5 separate regions of the Homo sapiens genome follow, and all the other regions are linked to region 3. Evidence: fine-mapped expression QTL. A gene starts in region 3. Each other region holds a variant in brackets. All regions are shown on one strand. Distances are between the middles of the regions.

What was found. PIP is the estimated chance that this variant, and not a neighbour inherited with it, causes the effect.
Region 1: its variant is fine-mapped to the expression of C1orf226 in blood mononuclear cells (TOPMed, PIP above 0.99).
Region 2: its variant is fine-mapped to the expression of C1orf226 in lung (TOPMed, PIP above 0.99). The same link has a PIP of 0.9 or more in subcutaneous fat.
Region 4: its variant is fine-mapped to the expression of C1orf226 in whole blood (TOPMed, PIP above 0.99).
Region 5: its variant is fine-mapped to the expression of C1orf226 in whole blood (TOPMed, PIP above 0.99).

Annotation. Positions count from the first base shown.
Region 1 is chr1:162,221,723-162,227,858 of GRCh38, forward strand. All of the region lies in intron 2 of NOS1AP (nitric oxide synthase 1 adaptor protein), which reads left to right. Among named protein-coding and RNA genes, the nearest start is that of MIR4654, 68 kb to the left of the region's middle. The variant C/T (reference allele first, on the strand shown) is at 3,598.
Region 2 is chr1:162,188,946-162,195,081 of GRCh38, forward strand. The region is part of intron 2 of NOS1AP (nitric oxide synthase 1 adaptor protein); the gene reads left to right. Among named protein-coding and RNA genes, the nearest start is that of MIR4654, 35 kb to the left of the region's middle. The variant C/G (reference allele first, on the strand shown) is at 2,604.
Region 3 is chr1:162,378,944-162,385,079 of GRCh38, forward strand. C1orf226 (chromosome 1 open reading frame 226) reads left to right here and starts at 2,785. Exons shown (of 2, transcript NM_001085375.2): 1 at 2,785-3,275; 2 at 4,239-6,136. The coding sequence starts at 2,959. The coding sequence ends at 4,740. RefSeq lists a silencer at 3,436-3,730.
Region 4 is chr1:162,232,538-162,238,673 of GRCh38, forward strand. All of the region lies in intron 2 of NOS1AP (nitric oxide synthase 1 adaptor protein), which reads left to right. Among named protein-coding and RNA genes, the nearest start is that of MIR4654, 78 kb to the left of the region's middle. The variant A/C (reference allele first, on the strand shown) is at 2,834.
Region 5 is chr1:162,333,407-162,339,542 of GRCh38, forward strand. All of the region lies in intron 5 of NOS1AP (nitric oxide synthase 1 adaptor protein), which reads left to right. It also overlaps the pseudogene RNA5SP61. Among named protein-coding and RNA genes, the nearest start is that of MIR556, 6.1 kb to the right of the region's middle. The variant A/G (reference allele first, on the strand shown) is at 3,011.

The DNA.
Region 1 (6,136 bases), 160 kb before region 3:
ATTAAATTTAAAAACGTTTGTCAGCATTTAACACAGTATTTGGAATGTAAACATTCAGTAAATGTCAGCTACTTTTTAAGACAAAAATGGGATCATACTATATACATTTCTATAGCTTGTTTTCTTTTTACTCAATGATAAATCAAAGATGTCCTTTCAGGTCAATATATGCAGACACCTGTACTCCATTTCTTTTTAATGGCCTCATAATGTTCTGTTATATAGATTAAATTATAATTTATTTAATCATTCTCCCATTGAATATTTGTGTCTTAAAAATTATTTGCCATTATAAAAAATGTTGAATAAAAAATGTTGCAATATTGCAATGAATTTCGCTTCTATTTCTTTCCTTGCTCTCTCTGGATTTTTACAGTTCTTATTCCTAGCTGTGGAATAGTGGAATTGGAGGTGGTGCCAATTTCGTTAGGTAATATCAAATTACTCTTCAAAAAGTTGCACCAAGCCTTACTTCCTGCAGCAATATGTGACAGCTTGAATGCACATGGTTAATTTTCAACTTAAGCCACGTTATTGAGCATGGCAGTATACAAGGAGCACAGCAGTGTTGTATACAATGCGGTATATAATATCTAACACGGCTAGTATCATAAATTTCTTCCTTGAGCACAGGCAGTTGTTTCAGAGACCTTTTACTTGACTGATGTTAATGAAAGAGCTCATTATGGACTTGGGTGCCCCTGCATTGTCAGGATCCTTTGCAGTGTGAGGACTGTTAAGTGGTATTGACACCTCTGAGGTTATCTTCATTTGTGTACAGAAGATGCATATTGGTGCATCTTTCATCAAGCAGAGTTTTTTTTGTTTTGCTTTTTTACTTTGATAATATTTAATGCAAATTATTTGATGCTAACTCTGCCTCAACTGTGATTACTACTCAACTTAGTTCATAACCCATAGAGGCACATGCCCACACACAGGTGGCCTGTTACATTTGCTTTTGCTGGTTGGTTATGAAGTTGTACTATATTTTACCTTTTTGGGGACTTATGTTTTATGTTGGCCATGATGAGAGCATTTTTTGCATAATTCTGAAAAGGCATGAAACTGCTGAAATAAAAATGAAAAGAGAAACAGTACATCCACTTTTAAGCATGGATATTTGCATTCCTTGTGGGGTGAGGTTAAGATCACGTGTGCTGATTAGGTCAAGAGAATGGAAGAAAATGGGTGTGATAGTTATGAGTATTTACATACAGATCACACTATTCTTTTACCATTTTGTCATTGGAGAGCCATGAATAAACCCACCTGTTGTCACTTCAGCTCATTTATTGGTAATAATGCAGTCTTAGCTTTTTGTTCAAAGACGTTGTAACATTTTATTCAGGATGTTGAGTGTAAAGTATATGTAATCTTTAAGAAACTCATTCTGAAATTATATCTAAGACAGTTGAGATTATTCCTATTACATGTAAGAGTTAAGTGAAAAAATACCTTCTTTAGAATGGAGAGAATCTAGTTACAGAATTTTCTCCTCTTAACTTAGAGGTGCAGTTTATAGACCTCCCTCCCTCCCCAAACTTCTGTGAGTTTGTTTTGTTTTATTTGTTTGTTTGTTTTTTGGTCTTGTATTGAAGAAGCAGAGAAACTCAGTTGAGGACAAGAAAACAACTAAGAAAATTCCTGAGATTATTTGAAAGCAGCTATAGAATAGATTCTGTATTGCCAAAAAGTGTGTAGGGGTGGGGTGGGGGAGCTCTGTGATAATTAAGGACAGGTCGGCAGAAAGGCTTCTGGGGTCAAGCTGAGCATAATGTTTGGAGGAATGTCTGAAAGAGGTTGGGGCTCCAAGGTCAAGACGTAGAAAAAGCTTTAAGAAATCTGAGGTTAAGATCAGGGGTTAATTAAACTGATTAAGACATTTGTGAGAAAAAAAATTTAATTGTGTTTATCATTGTTTACATAAAATATTTTCTCTCTGAATCATCTGCTGTTCAGTTCACCTGTTTTAATAGCTGTGGTTTTGTAGGTAGAGGATATAGGAAATTATTAAAATTTCAAAGCATGCGCCTTGCAGTTCAGAATACCTGCTACCCATAATGGCAGTTTAGTCTATTTGAAGGAAAAAGCCAAAAGGAAGCCTAAGATGACAAAGTCAAGATAAGCATTTCAATACTATACATGAAAATATATATGTGCATATGTATGTATATATAATTTATTTTTGAATCAAAATGGCACCTTTCACTCTTGCCTGGATACGGTGCATGGATCATGGATAATACATTTTCTGCCAGAGTCACTCTGTTAAGGGCACTCTCCAGTTCACTTTGGGAAGTTTATGTAAATACTGATTTTAATTTGTACTGGGTGACACTTTGCATTCACAGGTTTAAAGGCTGTAGAGTCATTAACTTGTAATTAACAAATTTTGCAGTCCTAACGCTTTTCATTCCAGATCTCAGAGTGTTTTGGGGACAGAAAAAAAAAAAAGCACAGAACTTTTGTGCAGGTCAGGGATCCACTCAGGAAACAAGGAGAGAAATGAGTTTTTGAGACCGTTCATTCATTCAACACATATTTATTGCCTGCTTTTTTATTCAAGGCACTTATTTTTTCCAGGATTGAAATATATTCTGGCAGTTTCTCCCTGCTTCTGACATTCATAATTCTCCATTTGGTAATGAACTTTCATTACTTCATTACCTTGGTTAAAACAATAAACTTTTTTGACAGAGGAGATCAAAAGTTGGCAATGGAAACTTAGGACATTATTTGATGTTCAAGGTGGTTGAGCTTTATAGGTGCAGAGGCTTAGAATTGGAATGCTGGGGGTCAGGAGAAAGGTCACATAGAAAGACAAGTGCCAGGTTGGATGCAGGTAGCTGTGGCACTAAGAGCAATATCTCTTCTGATGGAAAGCTTTACTTTAACTAATTAAACATGAAATAAAAGTGAAAAATTGTACTGAACAAGAAGACAGAGGAAATGCTACAGACTCATCCCCTGAGCCTGATTTTATCCAGAGTAACTTAGGGCAGGAAAGGAGAGAAGTTAGAGAGGACAAGTAGTGCCTGTCTTTGTTCCCAGGAGAATTGACCAGAATCTTCCCTGTTGATTTTGGCTAAGACTGATGTTGTTTCCAGGATGAGACCCCATGTCCTGAGGGTCACTGCCTTATCAGAGATGGGCTGGGGGCTCTTGGGTCAGTGAGCAACTCAGCCAGTAAAAGCAGGGCCCCCGGGAAGTCTTAAACAAAGAAAGAAGTGAGCATTGAAAAAGAAGCATCTCAGTAAAAATAAGGTTCTAATGAGCTTTCTTCTTGGCAACCATTCTCTTCCCAGTGACATGTCTGAGTCTCAGAAGTCCTGCAGGTGATATTTGCCACTTTTCACCACCCCACATACTTCTCCTTGAAGTCAAACCATTTAATTTGGGGCCTGCTGTGTGTCAGCACAAACTTTAGCCATGTCTGAGCAGAGTCCTCCTAGGGTAGGGTTATGAGGTCACTCTCCTTATTACTTATTCACGAGTTTTGGGTAGCTCTCACCTTTCCTGAAGGCCTGGACCATCGTCATGGCACAAACCATGGCTAGTTGTGGGGCAGTGTGCCTTCTGTCTGCACTGCCTCTT[C/T]CCTCACTCCCTTCAGTGTTCCCACTCCCTAGACCAGGACACCCTCCACCACAGAAGATGCTCCAGCCCCACTGTATCTCTAAGAGCATCACTCACCTTCCTGAGCCTCAGTTTCCTGCCTGTAAGATGGGTACAATAGTATCCACAGTGCACAGTGCCTCTTCTTCAGGTAGGTTGTGTAAAGGACGATAAAGTGAGTGTTTGTGGGAGTGTTTTTTGAATATTATAAATTAAGTTATGCTTTCCCTCTTCCAAGGAGGATAAAAGTGCCTGCAGGTGCCTCATAAACAATCAGTGTTGTCCCACGATCCATTTCCTTAAAGTTTTTCTCTGTCACAGATGCAACTAACCCAGGTAAGGCTGTCAGTTTGCTAACCTCTGCTGTTTTGTTCACTTAAATGGGTGGGAAGTTTTGGGATCAAGTCTCAGAGAGGCTTGTGAAGTCCTCCCATGTTCTCTGCCTTCACCACTGGCACAGTCCGTAGATTACTGATGGTGTCATTAGGATAGAATAGGCCCTATAGTCACCTCTACTTTAGCTGCAGAATACTAATAGCTCAAATTATTTATTTTTCATACAATGAAATTATTTTAACAAATTAATTTTATGTTAAGAAGCAAGGAATGTTATAGAGAAACGAAAGCAAGATAAAAATATTTTGCTTGTATTCAACATTCAAGGAATGTTTATTGGCTGGGCGTGGTGGCTCATGCCTGTAATCCCAGCACTTTGTGGGGCTGAGGTGGGCGAATCACCTGAGGTTGGGAGTTCAAGACCAGCCTGACCAACATGGAGAAACCCTGTCTCTACTAAAAATACAAAATTAGCTGGGCGTGGTGGTGCATGCCTGTAATCCCAGCTACTTGGGAGGCTGAGGCAGGAGAATCACTTGAACCTGGGAGGCAGAGGTTGCGGTGAGCTGAGATCCCACCATTAGACTCCAGCCTCCAAAAAAAGAAAAGAAAAGAAAAGAAAAGAAATGTTTATTGATTACCTGCTATGGTGCTAGGCCCTGGGGATTTAGCCTTGAGCAAAATGACACATTCCTTGGGCTGGTATTGTGGGGCAGCTCTAAATACTAAACCTAACATCTAAATACTTAATATTTACTTACGTAGTATTTACTTAGTAATTCTTAGTATTAACATCTAAATACTTAGTATTTACCATCTAAATACCAAACCTAACATTACAACAATAATTGTGAACTTGCAAATTGTGATGAGTGCAATGAAGGATTAGTAAGGATTGTAAGGGGACCCTAACAGAGTAACCTGATTTAATTTGGGGGCATCAGGAAGGCTTTTCTGTGGATGTTCTATTGAAGCCTTTACTAACTTTTAATCCTTAGTTTTTCTGAATATTTACTTTCACCTGTATGTAGGCCAGTACAACTCACTTTCCCTCCTTAGGCTGTATGTCTTCCTAAGCTCTGCTGCTAGTTAGAGAACAAGTGGTAAATATCCCCATTAGCACTTTGTGTCTTTGTAAGCTAGCTTTGCCTTCAGGGAGCTCTGAAATTCTTCCCTCTTTAATAGCTCTTTGATGACAGGCCTTGGACTCTGTTCTTAACTCTTCTTTCTCAGTATACTAGTGACTTTTTTTTTTTTAAATCCCCAGAGGGCCAGTTTGTCTAAGGGGGACAGGGAAGAATATACAGGCCATCATACTACCTGAAATGAAATGCACCATTCATTCTCCTTTGAGTTGTGAGTTTTAAGAAAGAAAAGGATCCTGGATAATGATTAATACATGGTTATAGAAAATGTGTTTAAAATATTTAGGCTAAAAAAATTATCACCCTTAATTCCAACATTACAGAGTTATCTCTATTAACATTCATAGAGTAGATTCTTCCAGTCTTTCCCCCGCTGTGCATTGATGTTGTTTAATCTATTTCTATATACAAAAACATAAATTTTTCACACATATGAGCATTTTTAGTATTTAAGAGGGCCATATTAACATTTCCTGGTGGACTTGTTGTGAATAAAGTACAGTAAGCACATTCAGAATTATTTCTTCTGTTCCAAACACATAGGAACAATTTTAAAAATATAACAATTAAAAAACAAGGGGGAAATCTTAGAAACCAAGAATGGGGATTGATGGCCCAGACTTTAAGATCTCCTTTCAGTGCACTTAGCACATGACAGGAGATCAGAACCATCCTCCTGTGTGGACTGGGGTTGGGACCATGCTCCTTGCAAGTTGACTGGAGCCTAATCACTCATGGTTGAACTTTGTGGCAGGTAGCTCTCCCATGGCCCAGGAAGGAAGCAGAGATAGGTGTGAGAATAGGACCTACAACTGTGCAGCACACACATATCTTATGTTTTGTTGTCCGTTCTAGAGAAAATCCTAAAAGCTTACTTTGGAACCTTGTTCAGAGTTGTATATCCTATTGGTCAAGGCTCAATCATTATTTCAGCTGCTAGTGAGGGGCAAATAAGGAGAAAAAACCCTCCTATGCAAGATGAGTTTGCAAACAAATTTCTGCACTCATGGAAAACCACCACTATGAGAGACAGGTGGAAG
Region 2 (6,136 bases), 190 kb before region 3:
ACACAGGAGGCTGAGGCAGGAGAATCACTTGAACCCAAGAAGCGGAGGTTGCAGTGAGCCGAGATTGCACCACTGCACTCTAGCCTGGGCGACAGAGTGAGACTTCATCTTGAAAAAATAAATAAATAAATAAATAAAAAGATTATTTTAGTGTTTTTCATGTATATGAAGTTTGAATTTGCATTATAGTATATGTGTTATGATAGTTGTATCATGTCATTTTACCTTACAATAGGAGGTCTAAGAACAGTTTTTTATATGTTGAACATTTCAGCTCTTAATAACTACCCAGAAATTGTCACTTGAAAATGCCATTATAAAAAACCAAAATGTGTTCCTGTCTAGGCAGACTTCATCTATTTGAAACATGGAAAAAGTTTAAGGTGCTCATTTAGTTCTGCTAATTATTTATTGTAGAAAAAACTGGTATTTTTTGTTAGTAGTCTGTTAATTCTTACCTTAAGCAAACTGGTTTCCATAATTTGGATGGAAAAGAAAACACCTTTGCATACAGAATCAGATTTCTCCTACTCAAAGAATTGGACTGTGCTTGGTGTTTCAACAAATATTCATTTAATAGACAAATATTTGAGTATCAGTATCTGACAGAATGTTCTAGGCACTGGGAAACAGGTAAATAAGATAGGCGAGATCTCTCTTCTCATGGAACTTATGTTCAAATGGGAAAGTCTGGTTATAATACAAAGACACAGTAGACAGGGTAACATCAGAGAGTGGTCAGTTCTGTGAATAAAATAAAGAGAAAATAAAGAGAAAATTATTTTTATCTAAATAAAGAGGGTAATGTGACGGAGAGTGATTCTGGGGAAGGCCAGGTGGGGCTACTTTGAAAGTGTCTGGGAAGTCCTCTCTGAGGAGGGGTAATTTGAGTTAAAACCTGAATATTGCCAATGAGCCAGGCTTGCCAAGATCTGTTCATGGCGAGGGATCAGCAGGTACAAGATTGGGAGGCAGCAGTGAGCTGGGCCCCTCCCAGCAACAGAGGGATGGTTTGTGCTGAGTGAAGTGAGTGAGAGCACCCTCCAGTGAAGATGAAGAGGGGCCAGTCCCAGATCGTGGAGACCTTCTAGGGCATGGCTAGTGAGTTTCTCACCCTTTTGTAATCCAGGCCTGTGAATTGATGCCAAGTGAGATTTTGTGGAGCTTAACTTTTTGTAGTGGATATTACAAAAATAATGTAACTTTAACAGTCTCTGTCTTACCCTCCCTGCCCCTCTCTGGCCATGTTCACATAGAACGTGTTTCATCTCTGCTCCCCATGATAGCCCTTCAGATACTTGGCTCCGCCATCTCTCTAGGCTAAACATCTCTAGTTTTATCAGCTGTCCTTCCCTGCTTGAATGGGCTCTTCAACTTCAAGATTTCTTTCTTCTCTGAACACATTTTTTTTAAATTTTATTTTATTTTATTATTATTATACTCTAAGTTTTAGGGTACATGTGCACAATGTGCAGGTTAGTTACATATGTATACATGTTCTGAACACATTTTTTTAAACAATCTGATTTTATTTATTTTTAATTGACAAATAATGTGCATATTCATGGGGTATATAATGATATCTTAATACATAGAATATATAATGATCAGATCAGGATAATTAGCATATTCATAATCTCAAACATTTATCATTTCCTTGTGTTGGGAACATTCAGTGTCTTCCTTCTAGCTATCTGAAACTTTATATATTATTGTTAACTATAGTTATCCGGCAGTGGTGGAGAAGTCTGGGACTTAGTCCTCCTATGTAGCGTAATTTTGTATCCTTTGCCAAATCTCTCCCTATTACCCTCTTCCCCCTACCCTTCCCAGCCTCTAGGACCCGCTGTTCTGCTTTTTACTTTTATGAAATCAACTTTTTTTTAGCTTCCGTATGTGAGTGAGAACATGCAGTGTTTACCTTTCTGTCCCTTAATGTCTGAGAACCTCAGGAATTGGTCACATTCTGATGGTCTGAGGAGAGCAGTGGAAGAGGGATGAGATGCTAGGGTAACCATCATCAGGGTTTTTGAGGGCTGTGTCTTTTTCCAGAAGCAATGGCTCCCTATCGTGTTACTTTTCTAGAGTCCTGAATGGGCAGGGGCCCTGTGTGGGAGACTCTGTAAGCAGAATCTGACAGAGTTGTTCCCTGGTCCACCACCGTCTAACACCCCATGGCTAGACTTGCCCGTCCATATCAGCCTTATGTAAAGCAGCTCTTCTGTTGGCCTCACTTTGATTTTTCTCAGTGTGCCCCATACCACGGGCACTGTCCACACAGGAACATCAGATTGGAAAATATCCCTGAGTTCCCTAAGAGACAGGCACTACTCTGAGGATCTTCCTGCCCTGGCCCCACTTGCTTCTTTCCTGGGGTAGGGTTTCTTCCTAGCTTGCTTCTGACTGTTCTTTCCTGGGGGGGATCTTCCCTGCTTCGAAGTGTTTTCTGTGCACTATGGTGCAGGGGTTTGTGAGGGCAACTGTACAGCTTGTTTCTTTCTGTTTCCTCTCCACAACCCATAGATCTGAGATTATCAGGTTTTGCCCATGTGGAGGTACAATGGGAAGATCCTGTGTTCCCCCAGGACTCTTTAGCATGTCTT[C/G]TTTGATTTACTGAATTACTTGAGGGATCTGTGTTTGGGCTGGCAGAAGAAGATAAGGGATTCCAGAAATTCTTGCCGCGTTCTCCTAGATAGCTGGCTACATTCTCTTCCTCTTCCTCTTCCTCCCCCATTGATAAGGCCTGGGGGTAAGAGAGAGTCCAACTCAGATTGATCCTGTAGTTGACCTCTTTGTGTTTGTCACTCATTCTTGATCTTTCTAATGAAGAAAGTTGGCCCATTAATTTTAATTATGGTAATAATGTCATTGAAATCACACCATTCATTTAGCCTAGGTATTACCCTACTCATGTAGAATTAGATAATAAATGCCAAAGTGGTGATGTAGATCCTGGCCTGTGGTTGGTGCTGAGCTAGGGGGTTCTATTCTACTGCTACTCAGATAGGGAGTGGTTGTCCCCTGGAAGATAAGGGACTTGTCTGGGGTTTTTAATGCCAGTGTTTTTGGGCTCCCACCTCTGTGTCCTGGATTATTTGAATAGTCCAGACCAGTGATTCTGAAAATGTGATCCCCAGACCAGTAGTGTCAGGCTCACCTGGGAACTTGTTAGAAATGTGGAGTTTCAGGCCCCACCCAGCACCTGTGGAATATGAAACTCTGGGGGTGGGGCCCAGCAATCTGTGTTTGACAAGCCCTCCAGGTGATTCTGATGTGTGCTCAAGCTTGACAACTGCTGGTCTGAGCCATCAACCTGACTGCCGTTTTCCAGGGTTTTTTCAAGAAGTGTCTTAGACTCTAGTGTGAAAGTTGCTACTCTGCAGATTGTCCTGTTAAACTGGGAAAGGGCTCAGGAAAGTTCAAAAGGGATGATGTATGGGTTTTTGTGTTGGTGTGTAGCTGGTGGGGAGGAAGGCACTCTGAGTGTAGCATGAGGCCTGGTGCAGCAGGCCTGGTCACTGGGGACACTAGGTTCAGAACAAGGAATACAAGTGGCACTTGTGTTAGAGGAACCAGAAGAAGAAAGAGGCTTGAAGACTGGCTTTACCACCACAGAAAGGCTGTTGCCTGCCATGTGGTTTTGGGCAAGGCCACTTTTCCCTGGCCTGTGCCTCAGTGGGCACTGCCTCTTTGCTTAGATGTCTCAACTTTTCTGTTCTTCCACTGGCCAATCCCTTTGCTGATTTAAATATATGTAAATATAGATTTTTAAAATAATTTAATCTACCTGTAGTCAGGTTTACCAGCCTGGGCACCTTTCTGTTTTCCTCAGGTAATTTTGCACCTTTCTGTGTGGATCTGATATATGTTTTATTTTTCAGTTTAATGCTCAGGTCTCCTGAGCTTTTGCAGAGCAGAGCACATCCTCCCTTCCTTTATAGAGACTATGGGGGAGACTTAGCAAGGGATCTATTCTAGTCTTCTGATTTCAGCCAGACCCTCTATCTAACAGGCCACTTTGACCCCTGGTAAAAGTCAAGAGTGTGCCCATGTGCCAGGAACTGACAGCCTCTGCAGAAAAATTCCTGTGATGAGAGAACTCACTGTGTGCTTTTGCGAACACTCAGGATGTTGAAGGATAGTTACAATAGTTACAGATTTTTCTTAACTGTACTGAAAAGATGACTCTCAGGCTGCAAGAAACACTGAAATGCCTTAAGGAGTGATGCTGTGAAGTGGCTGGAAAGGAGCTAAAGCTGGAAGCCTGGGTTGTTTGATAATAATAGGAGCTCTAGATCCCCGAAGTGACAGGTTGTCTCTTCTGAATTATCTTAAGGCAGATTTCAGGGCTCTTCCAGGCTGAAGTGGAGGTAAGCTGAGGTGAAGGGAGATAAGATTCTGGGGCATTTTGTCCTGGAGCATGTCCCAGTCCCTGGGCATAAAGGGATAGACCCAGGGAACTCACAGCTGTTGGGTATGCAGGCTGTTGAAAAGGCTCTAAGAGATAAAGTGGGAATGGCCTGAGAGTTAGAAAGGGAGCTAGACAAGCAATCAGGTCTGAGTGGAGTAAGGAGAGGGTATTTAAGAATTTGTGCTGATGGATTATTTTTGCTTCCTTTTCGCCTTGACCATTTACTGAATGTTTGTCTATCTTGCTGAATAGCAGCCAAGAGACTCTAACTTCTCTTGGTTTCCATCTGTATTTAGTTGGATTGTCTGTTCCCTTCTCTTCTGACAATTCCCTGAAGAATGTCTCCTGATTTTAGAGGGGGCCAGGGAAAAGGGGCCCTTTTCAGAAATCAAGCTAGATCTTTCCTATTTCTTCCTGACCCTTTTTCTAAAGCCTGAGATCACTCTTTTCTCACCCCTTCCTCTCAGTATTAGGTTCTGCTGCTCTCTTTTCCATCTCTAGATGGGTGTTTCTTTACTTTTCTTTCTTTCTTTTTAATTAAGTGGTTACCTTTCTGTCTGAGCTATTGGCAGGGATTTGCCAGGAGATCCAAGGCAGAGCTGCCAGCTTACTGGAGTGTGACAGCTGCTGAGGCCTCCCGTCTCACAGGCTCTGCAGAGATCCAGGGCTGTCACTTCAACAAGTGTCAGATATACACACTCTGCTTGCAGAGCTCCCCATGCATAGCCTTAAATAAATATCCCAGATATATCTGCCCTGTTTCCCATCTCAGACTCCTCTTTTCGTCTCCATCTGGTTTTCAAACATGATTTCCCAACTTCCCAATTACCATCTCGCAAGACCCCTATATGTCCCCTCTCTTCTCTTCATCTCTCTGATAAAATAAGGAACCAAAACAGCCATTACTACTTTAATAGAGCAGAGAGTCTATTCCCTTGGCTGCGATGAGTTTGCAAGACTGCTCTGCCCAGTCTTGTTTGCAGAGAGCCTGGTTGGTCCATCTCTGTAGGTTGTGAGTTTGCGCTGGTTTGGGAACCCCTCTCTCTGGCTGAGGAAAGTCCTCCCCGTATTTAAGTACCCTTCAGTGCTGGCTGTGCCCTTTTTTGTGTTGAGACGTTTTCTCAAAGGGCACTGTGGTTTCTACTTTCCTGCTGGAAGTTCCATGTCTGTGCAAAAGTTTCCTGTAACCTTTCAAGGTTTGTACTCTGTTCCAGAGGGGCTCTTGGATATGAAAATGGTCTTTTTTTCTTAAATGATCTCACAGATGATCAAAAGGAGCACATAAAAGCTGTCCTGGGGATTTGGCAAGGTTGCCAGTGTTCTCTTTACCTTTGGTCTGGTATTTAGGTCTGAGACAGTGTCTCGCCAACAGCCCTTGCTTTCCTCGGGGGGTTGGGGCTGAGAGACACAGAAGGGGAGGCAAGAGGGGCGTATTAATTCCTCTAGGAAGTAGAACTTCATTTTTATTCTAGGAGAGCCATTTGAAATTGGGTTGGCACATTCAGTCCTGAAAAAGTGACCTTGCAGGAGCTAGAATTTTATATCCAGCATTATTTTGGAGGACCTGGCCAGCAGTATTTCCCCTGGATGTATTATTGCATTAACCCTATCCAGTCACTCCTATGAGGTTTGTCTGGACTAGGATTGCTTGTGCCTCATAGTAGAGGAAAAGCCAGAGATGATGTTCTCTGGACTCACGGAAGCCGCTTAGCAGTTCTGTGATTT
Region 3 (6,136 bases):
GACACTCTCAAAGTGACTGGTCACTACGTAAAATGTGTCTTTCTTTTGTTTGTTTCCCACCTGCTTTCCGAGCCCCTTTCTCGGACAGGTAAGATATCCTGTTTTTTTGTGGATGACTTACATCCCCAGATGCCCTCCTCTGCTTGGGTGTGTGCATGTTGGGGGGTACTGTTGGGAGGGCCACCTGGCTGGGGTCCAGTCATCTCTCTGTCCTCCATTGCCATTATTTTCTGAACCATCAAGCCTCTAGTCCTGAAGCAAGAGAGATAATGTGTGGGGGTCATTAGCGTCATCATCAAGAAAGGGACCCATTGCACATCCTCAGACATAGGGATAAAGGGACCCCCCAGCCAGAGCCCCACTTTCACTTTGAATAGAAGGGCAGTTATCCGGGTCTGACCTCAAGAGCCCCTGAAGACCACTCCCATAGAGGGAGTTTTGAGTGGTTTTTATAAATGGAAAAAGACTTGTGAGCAGTTTCCCTACAATGTCAGTCCATCATGCAATTTTTAAGAATTCATATAAAAGTCAAATTCAATTAAACAAACTTATTAAATGCCTACTATCGTGCAAGACCCTAAGCTGGGCATTGTAGAAGATAAAGAAACACTTCAGGAGCTATGGCCCTCAAGGACCTTACCATTTTAAGACAAGGTGTATTTACTGGAAAGACTTAGACAAGGGTAAAGGGAGTGCATGGTAGGCTATCTTTACATTACTTAAGAATTCAGTGCGTTATAGACTATGTTATGAAGGGTAGAGAGCAAAAAATACAGGAAATCCAAAATGGTGCATAATCCAGAGTTCTGTTTATTACAAAGAGTGTTTTAAAAATAATAATAGCTTATAATTTACTAATCACCTTGACAGGTGTTTTTGGTGCTTGCCTTTTTAAAAACGAGTATGTCTGCTCTGAAAAGTCACTTTAAACCAATAAGGAGACCACCAGGGAAATGTCTGATTTGGGAAGTGGTGGCAATTTGCCTTCCCCGGGCATTTCGTACAGTTTCATTGTTGTCTATGTACTTTCTGGTTTGGGGGGAAATAGTTAAATGGTTTGGTTTCCAAATCTTCTTTGCTAGTTTGCGGATGACGTGATTAAAGAAAATAAGAAGGATGTGGGACCTGACAGGCAAATTGTGCCAAAGTGGATGATGTGGCAAGATACACACTTAGGAGAATCATCAGGAGTTGATGACCCTGCTTGCTGTGGAGCGGGCTGGAAGCTTCTGCTGGTGTGGTGGGTCTATCTGGAGCCCAGCCAGCTTGGGCCCTGTGTCCCAGGGATGCTGTCATGCTGTTCCCTGGCAGGTCCTCACCCTGCAGTGGTGCAGGCCACAGGGCTCATCCGCAGAGAGTAGTCTCCACTTCACTTCCCACAGGTTTTCCTCCCTGCCACCCAAAGGCCCTTAGAATATGGCATACCTAGGTAGTTGGCCTAGAAAGGATAGCACCACTGAAACCACAAGAAAGGTTTTCACTGGCCCGGGATACAGCAGTGCAGGGCAGAAAGAACTGCTTTACACAAAAATTCAGCAGAAGAAAAAGTACACCCTAACCCCAGTTACTCTTAGAAGAGGCTCAGTGAAAATAGACACTTAGCAGAGGTGTTCACAAGGAAAGGAGCCTAGTCATCAAATGATCGAGCGATCTCCTTTCCTCAGACTGACAACATATCTGGGGTAGTTGGTGTAGACAGAAACCTTGACCCAGATTCCAAGGCCTCAGAGTGGGTCTGGCTGCCTGATGACTGAGCTGGATTTCCAGATAGGGAGAGGATGGCCAAGTGTGAGTGTGTGGACAGCATGGCTTAGAGCCTGGAGCTCCAGTCATTTCAATAACAAACCTTTAAGCTACCACCTTGGCCACCACAATTTTCTATCTACAAAATGGGTTTTGGCGATTCAAGATCTGTATTGAGCACAGCTAGGTACCAAACCCAGGCTAGGTGTTGAAAATACAAAGATGAATGAGGCATGCTCTCTGCCTTGCAAATCTTTACAACCTAATGGGTTTATACCCAGCTCTTTGAGTTAATTTTTCAAGCCAAAGAGGATCCCTACAAGAAGGACCATGTACCAGGCATATATAGGCAGCTGTTCCATGATCTATAGCAGGGCAAAGTTGTGGACAGAGCCCTGAGCTGTGGGTTAGAAGGCCTGAGTTCTAGCTCCAGCCCTGCTAGTATTTAGCTGTGTGACCTCAGGCACGGCACTGCATTACGCGGAGTCCTGCAGGCTTCATCTGTAGGTAGATATCCTTCCATGTACCACCTCCCTAGGTGGTTGTAAGGATTAAGTAAGCTGATGTTCATTGGGATCCTCGTGCTTCACTGGCACCGAGTTCCTATCCATTTGGTACGAACTGATTCTGAACCACCACTTAGCACCTCTGCAAGAGCTGGCCCACTCGCTCAAGGCCCACCTCTGTAGACCTGAGGAGCTGCTGCCCCATTTTTTGTGGAGAATATGTGCTATACTCATGGCCTTCAGTGGGGAGCTTCTAACACCAAGCCTCATCCATGCCATCCCTCCACCAGCTTCCAACCCACTGAGAGCTCAGCACGTGCTTACGGTGATGTAAAAATGTCATGTTTCATTGCTTCATCCTCATTTTTTCTTTACTCCAAAGGGCGTGGTGACTCCAAGGTAAAGGGGCCAAGCCCATGAGTCAAGGAGGCAGGTTTACAGGAACAACTTTATTTTTTTATGGCTAGCATTAGTCACTGATTAACTTGGGTGGGGCAGAGCTAGAATTTCTAGTTCCTGTCCCATCAAGAAAACTACACTGGAAAGTTCAAGAGTGTCTTTGCTGGCTCTTTCTTGAATATTTCCAAAGCCTTGGAAGTTACAGGTTTTGGGTGTGGGATAAGGAAAAACTGAATGATAGAGCACAGGTACCGCTCCCCTTTCCTCATCATGCCTCTCTGTCGCCTCTTTGTTCATAGTTGACCACGGCATGTTTGAGAATTTGAACACAGCCCTCACTCCAAAGCTCCAGGCCAGCCGCTCCTTCCCCCACTTGTCCAAGCCCGTGGCCCCCGGCTCTGCCCCTCTGGGCTCTGGTGAGCCTGGGGGGCCAGGACTCTGGGTGGGCAGCAGCCAGCACCTCAAGAACCTGGGCAAAGCCATGGGGGCCAAAGTGAATGACTTCCTGAGGAGAAAGGAGCCCTCCAGCCTGGGCAGTGTGGGTGTGACAGAGATCAACAAGACTGCAGGAGCACAGCTGGCCAGTGGGACTGACGCGGCTCCAGAGGCTTGGCTAGAGGATGAAAGGTGAGCCCCTCACCCGCCCAACATCCATGCCCCTCTGTGGACCCACTTGAAAAGGTACAGGGACAAACTGCAGTGTCTGCACAGGAGAACAGCCCCAAGGGAGGGGTGTGAGATTGTCCTGTACTGAAAAGCTGCAGGATCAGGCCACGTTCTCGGGAGCTGGCTTCACCTTCTGCAGCCACAGCTGAAGGTTGCTGAGTGCCCACCATGTCCTCGGCTCTGTGCTGCTGAAGGTTGCTGAGTGCACACCATGTCCTCAGCTCTGTGCTGCAGGCTATAGTTGCATCATTTTGTCTAACCCTCCCAGCAGCCCTGGGAGGTAGATGATATTTCCATCCTGCAGATAACTCACGTTCAGACAGACAAAGTAAATAGCTTGAGGTCACAAAGATAGTACTTGGCAGAGCTGGATTTGAACCCAGCTATTGCCCAGAAGGTCCCCAGGTAGATTCTGATGCCCGGCCATAGCTGAGAAGCGCTGCCGTAGACTGTTGCTTGTGGAGAAGCCTGCACCTGTCACAGCCCACTAGGGCACAGTGGGAGAAGCCCCCTGTAGCAGCCCTCCTGTTCTTCCCCCTCCTACCAACAGGCTCTTTCCAGGCCTTGTTTTAAACACCTGTGCATCTGAGGTGGGAATGCCCTCACATTCCCTGTTTTAAACACAGGACTTACTGCCTGGGTTCTGATTTGACAAGCTTCACCAGCGGTCTCTATCCTGTCTTCTAGAGGCCAGCACTTTGTGCTGCTCTGAACACTGAGTAAGCATGGACCAGGCCAAAAGCTACTGTTATGCTGAAATTGCTAAGGCCTATGTGCCAAACCAAGAACCAGAGCCCAAGGAGTAGAGCAGTTATTGGGTGGGGTGGGTTGAAAGTGCAGTTGGAGTTGGAGAAGCAAGATGGCAGGTGGATTGGTGTCTTGCTGTCCTTAAGGCATGTGTGTTTATTGTCATTAACCTTACAGGTCAGTCCTGCAAGAAACATTTCCTCGGCTGGATCCTCCACCTCCCATAACCAGAAAGCGAACCCCTCGGGCCCTGAAGACCACCCAGGACATGCTGATTTCATCACAGCCTGTCCTCAGCAGTCTGGAGTATGGGACAGAGCCATCACCTGGGCAGGCCCAGGACTCCGCTCCCACTGCCCAGCCTGACGTCCCAGCAGACGCTTCACAGCCAGAGGCCACCATGGAAAGAGAAGAGAGAGGCAAAGTTCTGCCCAATGGAGAGGTTTCCCTGTCAGTACCTGACCTAATCCACAAGGATAGCCAGGACGAATCCAAGCTAAAGATGACTGAGTGCAGAAGGGCCTCCTCCCCCAGCCTTATCGAGAGGAATGGCTTCAAACTCAGCTTGAGCCCCATCAGCCTGGCTGAGTCCTGGGAGGATGGCAGCCCCCCTCCTCAGGCACGGACCTCCAGCCTCGACAATGAGGGCCCTCACCCAGACCTGCTGTCCTTTGAATAGAGCCTCTGCTCTTTCCTGCTGAGCTCTGCCCTTGTCTTCCTGCTGCTTTCTCCTCCACTGCGCACACTGGCCCTGGCCTCAACTCCGCTGTGCCCTTTGTCTTCCTTGTATGAGGCACCAGCAGAGAGCCAGTCGTCCATCATGGGATTTTGCAGGACTGGAAGTCCTTGAGTAGTTCTAGTTAAAGAGTCTATCCGCAGAATGGCTGAAGGACTTGATGCCGTTTTGAGCCTAATTTTCTGTAACCTCCTCTGAGTGGGCTGCAGCCCTTGGACATTAGAGCTCTTCCACTCTTGAGCTTGTCCTGTCTTCTCAGTGAATTGCAGGGCCACCAGCTCAGGACAATGGATCTTACAGGAATTCTTTTTGCCTGTCCCCTACATGCGCCTCCTCCCCTGCTGTTCTCCCTCCCACACCCCTGTCCCTTCTCTCTCCTCCTTGATGGGTCCGATGCCCCTGGCCTCAGCGGGAGGAAGGCTGGATGAGGAATGATGTGTTTGGCTTGATGACAGGCCATGGCCTAGAAAGCCACACACCCTGACCACAGCCCAGCCATAGCTCCTCTTGGTCCCAGGACAGTGCAGGCCCCTGGTTGCCATGTTTGCTCTGCCCCTGGGGTGGAGGCCAGAGGAGATGCTTACCAGGCCTGAGACCTTGAGAGTTCACCCAGGGTTTGAACGCTGCCACCCAGGGTTCCCAAGGTTTCTCCCATCTGGTCAGATGTCGAACACAAAATGTGGGCATTCTGCACGGAAGGAAAGATCAGGCTTCTCTTGCTGAGTGTGTGAAGACAGGGAGAGCCAGGCCCCAGCAGATGCGGCCTAGCACACTCTGATTTGGTTTTGTGGGGAGGGCCCAGGAACTTGGGGGTGGTCTTGGCATTCAGAGCTGGTGCTAAAAACCCAGAGCAGAAGCAGGGAGAAGGGAGTGAGGATGGGACAGAGAAGAGCGACCACTGGGGATCAGAACAGCTTTTCAGGGGCCACCTTGCAGCCTAAAATAATGCCGTTTCAGGGCCTGGGCCTGCTGTGAGAGCCAGAATGAAGCATGTACAAGATTGGAATGTGAGAAGAACTGTGGGGGGAAACCAGTTTTAATTAAGTGGAAGTGCTTTGTGCTTGTGCTGAAGTTGCCTGGGCCTCCTGCAGCTCTGGACCTCACTGGAGCGGCCCCGCCCTGCCCTTGCCTGCCTTTCTTTTATGCTGATGCTGGTGGGCTTTTTCCTGCTTCAGGATCCATGTAAGGGACTGACCAGGTTCATCCAGCCTTAACTGGTTCCTGCAACCCACTTTTAGGTCTCCCACCAGGGGCCTATTGTGCTGTCTTCCTGTGACCAGCAGATCCTGTAAGGGGGTGATCCTAATTCTGGGGCTCTTTGCAGCAAGAGGAGAACGTT
Region 4 (6,136 bases), 150 kb before region 3:
GTGTGTGTGTGTGTGTCTAAGTGTGTGTGTGTGTGTTGCAGATGCGGTCTGCTGACACAGCTACAAGACAGCTTGCCCATTCTGTGGGATTCTCTCTTGTGCTTTGATTCTGCTAACCTGCCTCAATTTTATGCTGGTTTGGCTTACCAAGGGTGAAAGTACATGAGACCAACCCCAAATCTGAATATTAAAAAAATTTTAAAGCAAATAGTTATTTGCTTTATTATGTACCTATTATGTACCTATTATGTACCTTTATTATGCACTCTATTATGTAATAGACACTGATTTAAGTCCTTGTCATAAATGAACTCATCTAATCCTCATAATAACCCTATGATACATAGGTATGGTTGTTTCTCCCATTTCATATACAGGAAACTAACACACAGAGGTTTAGTAACTTGCTGAAGGACTCATAGCCAGAAAGAGGATGAGGCAGAATTCAAATTTACAGTCTGGCTCCATAGTCTGTGCCCTTAAGAATTAAACTGTGTAGTGGTTCTCAAACTTCAGTGTGTTTTAGAATCTACTGGAGGGCTTATTAAAACACAGGTTGCTGGGCCCCACCTTCAGAGTTTCTGCTTCAGTAGGTCTGAGGTAGGGCCAAGCACTGGCATTTCTAAGTTCCCAGGTTATACTGATATTGCTGCTCCAGGGATTACACTTTGAGAAGCATTGAGCTATATATGGAACCCCTGGTGTTGCTCATCCTCATGGCCAAAGCAAACAGAGCTTGCTAAGTAGCTCCTCCCCACCCCAATGCCTGTGGCTCTTGCATGGTGGTGGCTGGCGGGGTAGTTGTACTGCTGTGGCTCTGACTCTCCCAGGAGGGTCAGACTACCCTAGACTCTAACCTGGTTGTTTTCCAAGTGTCCTCCTTTACTTGAGGTATGTCTTTAAAAATAACATCTTTATTGAGACAAAATCAATAGTGTACAGTTTACCCATTTAAAGTGTAATATTCAGTGATTTTTTTTTGGTAGATCCAGTTGTGTTACCGTCACCACAATTTAAGAATGTTTTCATTATCCCAAGAAGAAACCCTATACCCAATAGCAGTCACTCCAATTTTCCCCCAATAACCATCAACCTTAGAAACACTTGATGAACTTTTATCATTTATTTTAAGTACTTTATTGTCCAATCCCAAAGATAGATATGACTTTCTGGGACTTTATTTGCAAGGCAGTGTTTTGAACTCAAGCCTCTCAAAACTTTGCTTTGTGGCCAGGACTTGTGAGGATTTTCTTGGCCTACTAAGTGGTTCCTCTTCTTCCAAGAAACTCGTATGAGATGTTTAACCTCTTCTCCATGCTCCTGAATACTTTGGGATTGGAGATCTGACTCTGGCACCTTGGAATGGTTTGTGATTTTCTTTTTTCCTTTAAAATTCAACAGTTAGGGAAGCATTACACATGTGGTAGTAACCTACTTTGAGAAACACATCTTGTCTGCTATTGGACATACATGAAGATGAATAAGACATGGTTTTAACACCCAAGGAATTTAAAATCTAGTAGGAAAGACCAACATGCATAGAGAGGACTGCAAACACAGGCAGAATGTGATTGGGCCCAGGAGATGGGCAGAGTGCTGAGGAAGCACATTTTGCTCATGGACAAGGGGGCATGGTATCTGGACCTTGAGAAATGGGTATCATTCCAGTACATGAAGATGAGGAAAAGCTATAGGCAGTGAGAAGCAGAGCTAGTATCCTAGCAATGAGTTGGGAACAAGAGGGCTTTAAAGGAGCGAGGGTAGGAAGTCACATTGGGCTTATATCATAGAGTGCATTGAGGACCACCATGCTAAGGAGTGTTCCTATTCCATAGATAGTGGGAAAATGAGGAGTTTTAGATCAGGGAATGGCAGAGCTGTGCTCTTGGATGTCTCTTTTATAGAAATTTTTCTCTTGGATGTCTCTTTTATAGAAATTTTTGTCTTGTGAAGTTGGCAAGATCATTGTGGCAGCTCTTCTTCCCAAGTTGCCCAGGGTCTCTAACTTCTGAATTCCTCCCACGTGGAGCCAATGTGTCTCTTCCTCTCTATGTGTCCTGTGCCACTTTGTGTCCCCATCCTTCCCAACTCACTCCCTCCTTAAAATTCTTGCTGTCCTGTTCTCCATGATGTTTCTAATCTAAGGTTTCTATCACAGGAGGAATGGGTGCTGCCATAACTCCTGAGTCCATTCCAGAAACCACAGATGGGTTTTCACAGTGCTCTGTTGCAGGACCACAGCTCCACACCCACCCTCACTCCCACTCCCATGTGCAGTGCCCTTTGTGTTTAATCAAATTGAGTGGGGAATTGTAGCCACATAGAAGAGGCTGTTGCTTCTGGAGTTCTGCAAACTATACCCTGCAATCGGCTGTTGAGGCAGAACCCTACTCTGATTCCAACCCCTCGCTGGTTGTTTTATGCCCTGTTCTGACAGTTCCCTGGGCTGAGTTTGCTCATCACATTCTCAACCTGTTCATTTAGATTTGGGCTACCTCCTTTTATTGTTTTAAACCTGAGCGTTCCTTCAGTAAATCCTGAATATGTGAAGAAGAAATGTAGTACAGAGAGAGAGAAATTTTTCCTATTAAACATTTTAAAACTTTTTTTTTTAACTTGCCAAGTGTTATGAGGTTTAGATCCTGGGGACCTGATTCTGAAAGCTTTTCCCCCATAGAAGGGTTCACTCAGCTAACTTGAATTTGAACTTAATCTTACTCATCTCCCCACAACAAATCATTTTTCTCTCTGTCATGATTTCGTTGCACTCTGTGGCAACAGGCATGACCCTTACTGGGAAGCTCTTATGTAAGAGCTTGCCTAAGTGAAGAAG[A/C]CTTCCCTGGCGCTGGTATTGGCTCTTGGTAGCATGAGCCTTTGTTGCCTTTTTCCATTGCCCTCTCCCTGATCTCTGCACCTTGCAGGTCCTCACTGTTGCGCATACCTGGAAAGGGGCCATGGGGAGCCTCGTCAAGGCTGACTTGTCAAAGGCTCTTGCTGGTTTGTGTTTCAGGCTCTTGGAGCATGGTCAACAGTGCGGAAACATGCTGCATGGGGAGATCAAAGCTTCAGTGGCCAGAATGATGCAGTCACTACTCTGCTTAATTAAAACCAGGCCTGTGTACGTGGTTTTAATTAAGCAGAGTAGTGACTGCATCACTAGAGGCCAAGGGGCAGTTACAAGAAAGGTGATGGTGGTTAATTCCTGGCATTCCGTCTCTTGGTCCACATGGGGCCAGTGTTCAAGGAGCACTTGCCTGACTCACTGATGACATGAATATGTTTCATGCTCACATACATGCATCCATGTGTTTAGATCATTTGCTGATACTTGTCGCATCAGTTGGATAAATCAAAGAAATATAGAATCTGAGATCTAGAAGGCACATAGACATCATCTGGTTTCATTCATTGGAGATGAGAAACTGAGGCCAGGGGGATCCTCCAAGAGTTTGTTAGGAGCACAGTCTACATGTTAAGTGATATTTCATGTCACTTCCCCAGTCCCAGTTTAGAGTTGTATTGTAAATGACAAATATAGGTTAGTTAAATTCTCATTCATTCGTTCCACAGATGTTAACTGATCACCAGATTCTGTGTATCAGGGTCTTTGATTTCATTACTGATTTCCCATTCCTCTGGCTTCTTTCCACCTCAACTCCATAGTACAGTTCAGCTTTCCATTCCTATGCTAGTAGCTGTCCAACTTTCTAATACCAATCAGCAATTTTGAATATGTACAACTGTGCTACCATTTTCCTTGGTCACTAATAACAAAAACTACCATTATATTGAGCCCCTATGAACCTGTTAGATGCTTTACAGATACGATCTCACTTAATCCCCAGGAAAATATTTTTAGCTGACTTGCCCTTCACAACATACCATTCATATTTTCACAGCTGAAGGGCTGCAAGCTTGAGCAGTGTGTCCAGGGATACCCAGAGAGTAACTAGCGGACATGTCTTTCTACTCCCGTCCATCAGTCTGCCATTAAAGCACACCCTTTGCCCATATGTTACTTCTGTTAAGCCATGAGGAAGCAGGGCAAGTCATCCCTCTAGTCCCCTCTCTCCTCTTTCCATTTTTTGCTTTCTTGAACACTCCAGCCCCCCTTTCCCTCTTTTTCTTTGGTGGGGGATGGGGGGGCAGGTGTATTCCTGCATTCCTCAATTTGCCTTCCTTTCTGTTTCCCTTGGTTAGAAATGTTGTCTCTATAAATCGAAACCCATAGTTCACAGGCCAGTCCATGTATTGCAGAAGAGTCTGGCTGGTTTCAGGCTTCCTGGTCTGCATGCAGGCTGTACTTCCTCACTGACCTGTCTTCACCCTCCTTCTTAGGCATCAGAGGAGCCTCTCCTAGCTAAATTGCTAGTTACTTGAGAAGGAAAATGTTTCATCTTGATGGTAGCATATTATTCAGAGCCCTGGATAACCCCCAGCTCTCCTGGAAACACAATACGTGTATGTTTGATGGAATTTATCTTGATGATTGGTGAGAGGGTGGTGATTTAAACCAGCTCGTTTCCCGTTTACCACTGAGGCCAGCTCACCTTTGCTGGAGAGGGTTCTTGACTCTTTCTTTGTAGCAGGAACTCCCAAGTTAATCAAGTCTTTTCAAGAGCTTCAGGCTGAAAGTCAAGATCCCTCAGGTTAGACCCAATGTTGAAATTTTAACTGGGCAAATTCTCATTAGAGACAAAGGGCCAAAGACTGTGCTGGTGGAATCTAATGTCTTTTAATGTTGACTTCAATCCAGTAAAGCCCTTGTTAAGCCATTTAACTGTAAAATTGGGCCTTGGGAAGGCAGGACACCCTCTGAAATTAGAGGTCAGGAGATTTGAATTTGATTTCCAGCCCTCTGCCAGTCAGTCAGCCACTCACTCTCAAGCCTTAGGCTAGTCACTTTCTGTCTGTTTCTCAATTTTCCACAGGGATTTTTGTGGGCATTAAGGCCCACTGGGAAATGATCCCCTTTTCAGCTCAGTGCCTGGTTTGTTAAGGATACTGGTCAATCTGGACTTTAACACACCTATGATTTTGGATTAACTCTATTACCTCTGCCAGAAATTAACACAGAAAATTGACAGTTGATTGACAAGAAGGAGAATCAGTTTTAAAGAATTAAAATATAACTGAGTCCTTTATTACTTAAAGAATATTCAACTCAAGTGGACACAGATCACCCATTCTAACTTCATCAGCTATAGCACTTAAAGGAGGCAGGCTTTGCGGGGACAGTGTTAGCTATGTACTTTGAAAAAGTCGTGTGCTCTACAAATAAAAAGCTACTTTTGTTGTTACTTTTGGTCCCCAGTAGAAATGGAAGTCATTTTCAGAGAGCATGGGAGACACATGAGTCCTTTGCTGTCCTCTTGTCTGCCTCTGAGGGTGAAATGAGAGGAGTGTGAAGCACTTTGGGGTGTGGCCAGGCACACAGCTAGGCTCGATGCAGAGCTGCTGTCGTGGTGGTGTGGCCCCAGTCATCATGAGCCACATCTGACAGGATTAATCACATTTCATATGCAAGCATGCTCTCTGCTTGACCGTGCTGTTGTTTTTAATGAGAGCATCATTTACAGTATGGTGCAGTGCTTTAACCTGATAGCCCTGCCTAATTTTGTTCTGTGTAACAATGTGTGGACTTGAATAGGAGGCAGGGTTGGGGGAGAAGGAGGGAGAATGGACGTATGAATAAGAGAAAGGTGTCTCTTCCTTTGGAGCATGGATGGGTTCCAGTCCCCACTAACCCCCTCAGCTGGGTATTTTTGTGCGGGTCACAGCCTGTGCTACATTAAGCATCAGCCCTGGTTGGGGATAGAGTCTACAGGGGAAGGGTTAGGGCTTCATCAAAGAAGCAGCTCTCTTAAGTGACCTCCACTTAACTTACCTGCTAGTCTCCATTCCTTCTGTAAAACATACTACCGGCAACTGCTGCTACGTGTTTTTGTTATTGTTGTCTTATGTGCCACCATAATTTTTTTCCCTCCATTAGGGCTGAATGCATACCAAGAGCCAATTGTGTGAATTCCTAAACTTGTTTGCACCAGTTATATTTGTTGTTGTAATTGAATAATTTAATTATTACATAAATGAAATATGAGTGAGAAAAAATAGATGGCTAACATTCACTGAGTAC
Region 5 (6,136 bases), 46 kb before region 3:
GGGGTAGGAAAAAAGCATTGTCATTTACTAAGGAGACCCTTCATCACAATTCTGTATATTGATTAGGGGGCTACAAAATATGAATACACATGGAGTCTGGTTTAGACTCAGTGTGTGATATTGGTTATCCTGGGTGATTATTTGTTATGGCAACCTTGATACTCAAGTAAATGCAACTTTGAGGATTCTGAAGAGGCATTCTTTATGTTAATGTCATTCCCCCAGGAGTCTAACACACACAACTGGGGTTTTAGAAGCCTAGGATCTAGCCCTGCCTCTCACTGGAACCCTGAGTGACGTTATGTAGGTCCCAGCGTTCTCATCTATAAAATGAAAAGAATCGTCAAAATCAGCATTTCCTAAATGTGTTCTGTAAAACATTTATCAGCCAAAATGTTTCATGTTAAAACTACCTGATTTAAGTTGCTGAGAAGGTCTGATGATAAAAAACATGTTGTTTAACCCAGAATTTCCCAAACTAATTTCACAATGGAATCATATTTTTTCCATGTAATATGTGTTAATATCCTGGGAACTGTTTTTCTGCAGAAGAGATTTTGGAAAACACTATTTGTGCCCCTAAGGACCCTAGTAAGTCCATCATTCTAGAAACAAACTACTAAGCCTGGCTTTCTACAAGAACTTCATTTTATGCATCTTTTGTCTTCAGGCCTCTTTAGCAGATGTTTAGGTACCTTGTCAAGTACCTTGTCAATAACACATGCCAGGGTCCAGATTTACTGATGGGTGTCCTATTCCCTACCCTAGCTCCACAAAGAGAATTATGCTTTGTTAACTTAGCCTCTTCCTCTATGGAGATTTGTGCCCTTAACCACCCTGTTCCAGGCTTTTTAAATGCAAATCATGGAGTTGGATGAAAAGTGCTACAACTGGAAAGATGGCAGGAATAAAAGAGTAACTTGCCAGACTTCACATCTAGATAATAGTATAGCTGAGAGGGAAAAAACATAAATGAGGCTAAGTCAAGCTGCATTAAAGAACTGATAGAAAGGGGAATAGGAAGAGGGAGAAAAAGAAAAGCCATAGGCGCTGGAGATGAGAAAGTTTAGAGTTTGGGAAAGTGAAAGGCTCGTATGTGGCCTTGTGTAGGGGACCTGGGGAGGAGAGAAAAGGAAATACAAAGTCTCCCTGATGGTCATGAATTGGCTCGTCTGTAAGGTTCTGACAGATGCAACAAAAGACTGGAATTCCCTTTTAATTCATTTTGAGTATTTGACTGTGCTTCTGACTTTAGTTTCGTACAAAGACTGGACCATGTGGACCTTGGAATTTATTAGAGTTACAAATAACGCATTATCATTTGCCAGGTTCTTTAATAGTTAATCTTATTTTATCCTTATAACACGTCTGTAAAGAAGGTAAGACATGTAACTTTCACTTCCCAATTTTACCGATGAATAAACTGAGGCTCAGAGAGGTTAAATGACTTGCCTGAGTTCTCATGAATAGGCACTGGCTAGAATAGAACCAGGGAGACATGCAGGACAAAAGAATTTTGAGCAGGAAACCTAGGTAAGAGGACCATTATGTTATATTTGCCTTGCTATCAGATCTAACATAGCAATACGGACGCAGTGGGGGCATCCACTTCTGACAAAACCTGAGTTTAAGACCAGTGCTCACTTGGAACTTTGATCTTGAAGTGAAGCACAGAATGGAGTTCCCATTATCCGTGAAAAGGAGTAGTCATCTGGTTCCCTATCATGTCAATTTTTTTTCCATGTCTCGTAGCTCTTACAGCGAATTCTGATCTCTGGCTTTCCTGTTTCCTATACCGCTTTCATCCTCACCTACTGAGACCCTAGCTCTTCATAGAGTTGGTTCTCAGGCCCTTTCCTGGCCTGGAGCCATGCAGCTGAGGGGATTGTTTCCAGTCAGCCTGGGCGTTGAGCCCTGTTGCTGCTGAGCTGTAGGTGGGAAGGCTGGTTTCCAAGCTAAGAAAGGGAAGTGAATTGTTCGGCAAAGGATGCAGAACTGGGGAGGGCTGGGGAACACATCTGCAAGGTTTTGCTTGCCCTTCTGCTTAGCCTCCAAACATGGTGATTTACCTTTTTTATAAAGCACTTCTAATGTCAAGAGGTAATAGTTAACTTGGGAAGGAGTTTTAACTGGCAAATCATAGGAATGCTTCAGAAGTGGTGGGCGGGGGGAAAGGACTATAGAGGACATGTGTGTTGCAGAGATGTTGCTGGGTTGTTGGAAGTCAATAGGGAGTCCTCTTGACTGGAAGCCCGCAGATGTGGGTGTTCTCCGGAGCCCTCGTGTTGGTCATAGTGTAGAAAAACCTTGTCTGAGATCCTTTTTGTGTTGGGACTTTGGTTATTGCTGTTTCATATCACATCATGTCCCCTGCGTATATGCTCATGACCTCTAATGGGGTGTCATCATCACCCTAGAGTTCACATGGGGAAAGGGTTACCTCCTCTCTTGGTTGAGAATATGGGTCAGATGTCTTAGCTTTCCTGGTTGAGGGCCTCCCTCGACCTTGTTCCCTGCACAGCTATTACTCTGTACCTATGGATCTTCCTTGGGCCACTCACACAGATAGCCAGTGTGGCTCCCACCTTGGGAGTTGTATCCTTGAGCTAAGTTTTTTTTCAAGTGGGCTTTCACCAGAAGCTAGAAAGCAAAAATATTGCAGGAATATAACATGGTACCTGCTATTCTTCTATACTCTAGATTATCTAAGTTCCAGCCTCATATTACATCAGATAATAATATCTAACCTGTTTTGATTAGTTGCTATATGCCTGAGACTGTTCAAAGCTCTTTACATGAATGATCTAACTTTATTCCCACAGCAGCCCTGTGAGGTAGGTGCTGTTATGCTCTTCATTTTATAGGTGGGAAAATGGGGCCTAAAGGTACATAATGTGTGTAAAGACTCAACAAGTAATGGAGTCAGAACTGAACCCAGAGGGTCTGACTGTGGAGCTCACACTCTTACCCACTCCATTATACTATTGTTGTTGGCTCATGAGGAAGTTAT[A/G]TAACTCAGAAGTTGCTTTGTTTTCCAAGACCCATTTGTAACTGGGTTCTGCTGTAATTATTACATGGGTATGAAGAGCTCCTTAACTCCGAATGGCCCAAATCACTTTAACATAGATTTTCCTTTTTTCCTCATAGTATCTTTTTGTAGTTAATATTGACTCAATTTTGTAGTTGAAGAAGAAAAGGCCCAAGGAAGTAAATCACCCTTGGTCACACAGTGAATCAATGATGCCACTGAAATTAGAAACAGGCTTCCTCCTTCTCAGGCCAGGACTTTGAACGCTAAACCCTATTACACAAAACTCATAAGAAAGATACGTGAGCCTTTCTGGACTTGAGTTTTCTCTAGCCATCAAATAAGATGAAAGGCATCTCAGGAGTGCTGATTGTTGTGTGTGAAGTGACGTCATCTTTAAGGAACAAATTCTCTGTGACTGGGAAGGATTGTCAGGATTGTGGTGGAGGGACCCTAGCACTCTTCAGACCCATGCTAGAAAGGAGGGATGGGAGTGGGTCTTTTCCTCACTGTGAGCATCCAGTGGAGATGCTTGCTAATAACATGGGCATTCCTTGTTTCCCCTCCTTGGGGGATATAATGATAGTATTCATTTGCAGGGCCTTTTGCCTCTCGAGAAGACTCTTGCATGGTCTCTTGACCTCTCCCGTGGAGTGGATGTCATCCTCCTGTCATTTTCTTCTAGCTCTAGGAGTATATGGCTGTCTGCCCTGATTACCAGTGACTGCACTTATTAATGCATCAGTGCGTGAAGTGCTGGTGATTAACAGGAGCTGCAGGCATCTCCCCATTATCTTCATGGGCAGCTCCTTGAAATAATTTTGCCTGCAATCACAGCTCGATTGGTTTGGGTTAGGAGAAATAATTTCCTCCTATAATGCTGTCACTATCAAATTGGGGGCCACAGCTGTGAAGTTGAACTGTCCTTTAGAGGTTGCAATGGATTTTGAATGATGATGACAGCCATGTGCTAAAGAATAAGTCACTTGCCTGGTCAAACTTACGAGATGAAAGATAGGAAAGTTCTAAAGTTAGGGAAAGAGTCTGTTTTTTATACTTTAGGTTGAGTTGGGAAGTCAAAATGCAGGAATCATGGGTCTCAGAACTCATCTAGTCTGAATCACTCTCTTTGTGGATGAGAAAATCAATACTGAGAAAGGAGAATTAACTGTCCACAGTCACCCAGTTGGTTCTGACAGCACTGGGATTGTAACTCAGACTTCTTTTCTCTGGGGTACTAAGTTTCATGGACTAGCAGAGTAGAAGGAAAAACACAGCTATCTGTTGGAAACTTTAAGATGCAGTATGTCCTGTCAATGTAGAAAATCACACCTGCTTTGAAACTAAACTTTCCTTATACTGAGCAATATTCTGATGTCCAAGGCATCACCTCAACCAAATTATATAATCAAAGCCACAAAATAATGTGTTGGACAAAAACCTAACCCATCTACCATTTCAGAGCCTTAGTACTGTAGATCCTACTGTATGTAGAAGTCCAAATATAAATGTATTTTCATGCTTTGGCATTGTAAATTCCATAGATTAAGATCATTTGATAGATATAAGCTGAATCTTTTACTAAGATTCCCCCCAACCCAAAAAAATACATTAAAGAAACATGACATTCAGTTCTGTTTTTGTTGAGATTCTGTGGCAGTTAAGGTCAAGACAAGGACATTATCTTGTATTGCTGTGATAGATAAGAATTATAAATCTGTGAGCTGTCCCACAGCTGACCTCATGGACTTCAGTTCTCTAAAATTCAGAACCACTTGTCAGTCAAATTTGAGTACCCAAAAGAGATGGGGGAGAGGGGGAGTGGAGGAGGGGACAGGGGAATAGTAAACTAGAGAGCTGGTAGACCATTAAAGAACCTTACTTGAAAGATGTGTGCCCCCATTATTCTCTTTTCTCCTCTTATTATTGTCATTGTCATCATCATCTTCATCTGGTATTTTGTACTTATACTCTCTACTTGCTTATCTGGTGACTCTTAATCCTCTTTGTAAGTTGTAAAGTAAAGAGAGAGCTTCTTCCAGGACAGTGAAATTCAGAACAGTGCCCAAAATTATTTATCAAATCAGCTATAGAATATGACTAATAAGAACCATTCTTTACATGCATATGGCACTTAAAGATTCCCAAATTTTATAGGACCAACCAACTACAAAGTCGTTAAGAAAGAGAATAGAAAATAAAATCATGGTCTATGGCCATACCACCTTGAATGTGTCTGATCTCATTAGCTAAGCAGGGTGGGGTCTGGTGTGTACTTTGATGGGAGAAAATAAAATCATGATTGACTATAATTTTTCTATGGGCCAGTGAGGTACAGGAATCAACCTTTTGATTTATGTCTTCCTAAAGCTACCACTGTCGGCTTTTGTTTGCTTTCGGGTGTACAACCCACAGTGATTGTGAATATAGTGTTATTTTCATGACCATTGCCGCAGTTCATCAAATGTTGACTCCTGCTAGGTATGAAGTTGATACCCACATTAGGTGTGCTGAGGAGAACAGCTGTTCATTGCATTTGGACTTAACTTTGGTTCTGGCTTGAGGGATGTCCTAGGGTTGTGGGAGAAGGAGCTGTGTCAGCGTGAAAAGATGGGTGGTTTGAAGAAACATTGCTGTGTGTATAAGGTAAGTGTATACAGTTTTAAGCTCCCTTTCCAGCTGTATTTTCACAAAATTGCCTGTAGTTGACACTCCCATGAGCAGGCTCTCCATCTGGAGCTAAGAGCCACTCTGAGGTTAGAGATCCCTTTCCAGCTTTGAAAATATCAAAGCAACCATATCCAGCCTAATCTTGACAATGAAGAGCCCACAAATGCTTTTGGGCTGCTAATAGAAAATGGCTTTTGGACGAGAAGATTTGATCCGTGTGGCAAAGCACTTTTATGGGCTTATGTAAAACTAAACTGGATTTGTACAGAAATAATGCAGTATAATGATGCTTTTTTTAAAAAAAAAAAAAATCTAGTAAATTCCAGAGAATGGCCAGATTTTGGAACTCAAAAAGGCTGCTTTCTCAAGGTTCCACTTGTTTACCCTTTGTACCTCACTGCCTTCAATCTTTAAACCTCTGCTTTAGTCTCCAAAGGC